2 separate regions of the Homo sapiens genome follow, and region 1 is linked to region 2. Evidence: fine-mapped expression QTL. A gene starts in region 2. The other region holds a variant in brackets. All regions are shown on one strand. Distances are from middle to middle.

Region 1 (2,500 bases), 38 kb before region 2:
ACATCTCTAACTCTTTCAAAGTTAGAAACTTTCTTGCACACAGCAAGTTCTCAGTTAATAGGTAATGAATATTCTTGAGCCCAAGAGGCAAAGATTAGCTCTTTAGAACCAGGAAGAAGGATCTGTTACTGCCTTTTCCTGGGTGCTTGCTGGTTTAAGTAAAGTGCATGATGGAATAGAATTATCTGAGGCTGGGTTTGGTGGCTCACACCTGTAATCCCAGCACTTTGGGAGGCCAAGGTGGGCTGATCACTTGAGGCCAAGAGTCCAAGACCAGCCTGGCCAACATGGCAAAACCCTGTCTCTACTAAAAATACAAAATTTAACTGGGTGTGATGGTGCATGCCTGTAATCCCAGCTACTCAGGAGGCTGAGGCACAAGAAATCACTTGAACCCGGGAGGCAGAGGTCGCAGTGAGCCGAGATGGCGCCCCTGCACTCCAGCCTGGGTGACAGAATGATACAGAAAATAAAAAAAGAATTACCTCAGAGTAATAATATTCAGCAAATTTAAACTTGCCACCTACTTAAAATGGATTCATGAGGACATATTGGCCACCATCTGCTGTTGAACGCTGACACCAGATTACTGAGTAAAGAATTTGAAAATTTTCTCAAAATTGATTGTTCCAGACATTTTGGTAGTTGCTCATCAGCAGAGTTTCCCATTCAACAGATTCTTCTATGGAACACAAATTTGCAGTGCCCATTGAAGAAACAGAAGTTGCTTTCAAACAGATGTGTTGGTCTCTGTTTTTAGTTTCAGGCTATAAACCTTTTGAGGGCAGGTACTAACCACCAGGTTAGTACAGTTATGGTGCTTTAGAATCTAATCTCAAGAGAAAACATCATTTCAAGGTTCATGTTTTTTCAGCCTCCAAATTGGGTGTACATGATCCACCTTTAAGGCTTTTTGTTTTTTGCTTTTGTGCCCCTTTATATCTCTTGCAGGAAGACTTGTCTCTTTCCCTCCACC[C/T]CACATTTGTACACAGACTGCCACCTCCACGTTAAAAAAGAAGGCAGGAAGGGGTTGTACTTGAAGTGACCAGCAAACATTATCTTCAAGCCTTAACCTCTTTTGAAAGATGGTCTTTGCCAATAGGGGAGAGACAGTTTCTGGAGGAAACTTCCATGGTGAATACCCAGCCAAAGTAAGCTTTTTAAAACTGCTCCTGACCCAGAAGGCACATTTCAATATAGGCTGACTAAATGGAGACCCTCTTTCAGGCCCTAGACTACTTGGCCATTGGCATCCATGAACTTGCTGCAATCAGTGAGAGAAGAATCGAGCGGCTCTGCAATCCCTCCCTCAGTGAGCTGCCTGCCTTCCTGGTGGCTGAAGGTGGTCTGAACTCTGGGTTCATGATAGCTCACTGCACGGCAGCAGCCCTTGGTAAGGACACTGCCCCTTTCCCAGAACACACGCCCGTCCATCTAAGGGTCTTTCCATTTCACCTAGAAGTATCAAATGTGGTCTGTGAGTGAGATCTAACTTTTCACCACTTTTATCTGCATCCTAGTTCTCTCAGTGCAAAGGTAACAGGTTAACTCTAATATTTTTCAGAAAAAAATAGTTTAAAAACTTCGATACTGTTATGCTGAAATATAATAATACAATAATAAGGCTGTAATGGACAATTTCTCTGTGGAAAGCAATTTGACATTGCATATGAACTTCATCTCTATAGCTTTTTTCCAAATCTCCATTTGAAGACTATTGGAAAAAGACTAAGATGGTTATAGTTAATGGTGAAACTTGAACCAACCTATAATTAAACTTTGAACTTTTAAACCTATAATTAAACTTTGGATTCATTTCACTAGATATAACAACCACTAAAAACATAAAGATGTTATTGCAACATTAAAAAAATGCTTATAAGAATCAGGATACCCTCTGTGAAGATTGAGCTTCAATATAGTTTATTTCTGACTCAAGATTGTAAGAGACAGATTAACACATCAGAACAGTGCCTGGCACTAAGTAAGTACTAAGGGCCTCATTTATGTTCATTCACTTAATTGCACAATTGTCACCTGAGGTAAGTGCTATTATTGTTATCTATAGATGAATATCTGAAGATCTGAGAGTTAAGTGACTTGCCCAATATTGCACAGCTAGCAAGATGTAAAGCAGAATTCAAACCCTGAATTTTGGCATGCAAAAATGTGCTTTTACTTCAATTAATGAGGATCTCATTTTAATCAATACTTAATCCTAAAATAGGGTTGTCAAATTTAACAAAAACACAGGATGACTAGTTAAATTTGAATTATTTGGGACATACTTGTACTACAAAAATTATTTTTTTAATCTAAAATCAAAATTTAACTGGGCATCCTTTACTTTATCTAACAACCCTACCCTAAAAGGCAGGATAGCATGAGTTATTACATGCGTAGATGCTAGATCAGAAGCCCAGCTCTGCCATTTACTAGCTCTGTGAGCCTCTTTATCCTGTTGATCCTCAATTTACACCTGCATAAAATGGAGATCAGT
Region 2 (2,500 bases):
TCAAAAAAACAAAAAATAGGCTGGGCGCAGTGGCTCATGCGTCTCAAAAATAAATAAATAAATAAATAAATAAATAAATAAATAAATAAATAAAATTAAACCAACCCACAGTCCCTTAAAAGCTGGGCTCTTGCACAACCCTAAACTGCCTCAGATAAGCCGTGGTCAGTTTGTGAGACTCATTGATCGTGTGCAATTGTGGTCCCATGGCACGCTTTGGATTCAAATTCTCATCCAACTTCCCTTGCTACCCCAGGTCGCCCTCAAACTTTGTTCTTTTATTCATATCTGGCAGGAAGCTCAGATGAGTAAGAGAAATATCTTGTTTTCTGATGGTCAAATCTTGATTTATTATCACTCAGGGCCATTATCGTCTAAATGTTCTCCGTGGTTCTAAAGCTTTAGTGTACGAGATCACGAGGATGTGAAAGGTACTTTTGAAAAATTCAGGTCTCAGAACTCCAGCCCCAGTGATGCTGATTCTAAAATTCTAGGGATAGGGAGTGGGGGACGCAGGTGGAATCAGAAATCTGCCGTAAGAATAAAATAACCACAGGCCACCCTGACAAAGGTGGTCTTCTGGCCTCCCTTTAAGAAGCACTGGGGAGGACCTCAACCCCTTCTGATGGTTGGACAGTGATATTTTACCAGCAGAGGCAGGACCCTGATGCGTTCCAATGGGGTGTTCCTCTCTGAGCTCTTTGGACGGAATGACAACCCCAAGCAGCAGAGCGTGTTAGCAACAGGTACCCCAAAGGCTGGCTTGCCCGTGTATCTCTGTGCAGGGACGCTTTCACGGCGTTGTTTCCCTCCAGAGTGCACAGTGAGAGGAAGAGCGGCCAGCTCCGCCCGTGGCGGTCCCCACCCTGCGCGCCCGGCCACTTACTTGCCCACCACCAGGCTGGCGCCTTCCAGCACCGCCAGGCTGCGCAGCGCATCCCGCGCCAGGAAGCGCTCGCCGCGGGCGCACACCAGCACCACTTGCTGCGCGTTCTCCAGCAGGAGGCTGTGGCCGCTTGCCATGTCGCCTCGCGCCGAGGGTCGCCGGGAGGCCACCGGGCTCGGGCCACCGGCAGGACTCAGTGGAGGACGAAAAGCCGCAGCCTGCGCTGTCCGGGGCTGGGAGGGTGGGGCGGGGGCGGGCGCTCGCAGCCGCTGCCCTTTGCTCGCCTCCCCCAACCACAGCAACGGGGGCGGTAATCATTGCAAGAATGGCAACGAGTAATAAACCTGATGAGGAATCCTCTCTTTTTTGGTCGTCTTGTCCCATCCCGAGTAAACGAGATGGAGACTAGTGTCCCTACTTTTCAGATAAGGAAACTTAAGCTTGGTCACCCCGAGAGATCAAAGTGAGCTGTGTGGATCACGTGGTATGTGGAAGCGCGTCAAGGGTTGGCTGGGTGAGGGCACCCGGAGTGTTCGGGAGTGAGGGACCGGAACCTGGGGTAGAGCCCCGGAAGGGGGGCCATGGGGGAAACCTCTGCCCGGGGGGTTGGGGTGGGAGCCTGGAGATAGCGCTCCTGGAGAGGGCAGAGTAGGGGAAAGCTGTGCCCAGGGGCAGGGACGGGAGCTTGGAGGTAGAGCCCCGGGAGAGGACAGAGTGGGGGAAACCTCTGCCTAGGGTGCTGGGACGCGAGCCTGGAGGCAGAGCCCCGGGAGGGTACTGCGTGGAGGAAACATCTGCCCACAGGTTCTGGGGCGGGAGCCCGGGACGCGGAGGGCCGCGAGCCGAGGGAACCTGGGGGTGGGGAGGAGGGGGATGCGGTAGGGGAGGTGCTCCTGGGTCCGCGCGGGTGGCGGGTGCCCCGCACTTATCCGTTGGCCAGCTGCGTTCCGGGATCAGCTACCAGACGGTCCCTGAGATGACCGGGAACCGGGCTGGGGGAGGATAGAGCCGAGACTGGAGGATCGATTGGCACCTCCGCCCACTTTTCCCACAACGCCTTCCCGAACGATAGGTTGGAAAGGCTCCTGGATCCAAACTCGCTGAGGTAAAATAGGTTTCAGCTCAGTGTCCGCCCCTCCGCATGCCCCCTCCCACCCCTCAGCTGTGTCTGGTGGGCCTACAAGCAACTTGCGACCAAAATTGGAGACAGAATCAAGTTTATGGAAGATGGTCTGTGATTCTCAGCCTCGTCGCTTCCTGCTACCAATTGCTATGGAAACACTGCCAGGCCCAGGCTTTTGAGTCCTTAATTACTTGATTTCGTTTATTCATGTTTATCACAAGCTCTGTGTTAAGTCTTGTGGAACATACAAAGATAGGAAAGGCGCTTTCCCTGCCCAGTAAAGACTTTACAATAAAAGTGATAGATGTGGACACAAATAATATACTATAAAAGCAGACTAAGCCTGCAAACCCACAAAATATAAAAGTTAATTTAGTCTCATTAAAAAAACCTGGAACAGAAAGCAAACACTCCTTTAGATGACCACGATAAATAAGAATATAATTTAGCTTCATATTATGGCCTATAAAAGAGAGATCAGTTAGGAAAGA

What was found. PIP is the estimated chance that this variant, and not a neighbour inherited with it, causes the effect. A credible set is the group of variants that fine-mapping cannot tell apart.
Region 1: its variant is the best candidate, but not a certain one, in a credible set for the expression of AMDHD1 in sun-exposed skin (GTEx, PIP 0.61).

What each region holds. Positions count from the first base shown.
Region 1 is chr12:95,979,449-95,981,948 of GRCh38, reverse strand. It overlaps HAL (histidine ammonia-lyase), which reads left to right. Exons shown (of 21, transcript NM_002108.4): 16 at 1,086-1,151; 17 at 1,228-1,393. Among named protein-coding and RNA genes, the nearest start is that of HAL, 16 kb to the left of the region's middle. The variant C/T (reference allele first, on the strand shown) is at 977.
Region 2 is chr12:95,941,922-95,944,421 of GRCh38, reverse strand. AMDHD1 (amidohydrolase domain containing 1) reads right to left here and starts at 1,091. Exons shown (of 9, transcript NM_152435.3): 1 at 887-1,091. The coding sequence starts at 1,023. It overlaps CCDC38 (coiled-coil domain containing 38), which reads left to right and starts at 1,808. Exons shown (of 16, transcript NM_182496.3): 1 at 1,808-1,991.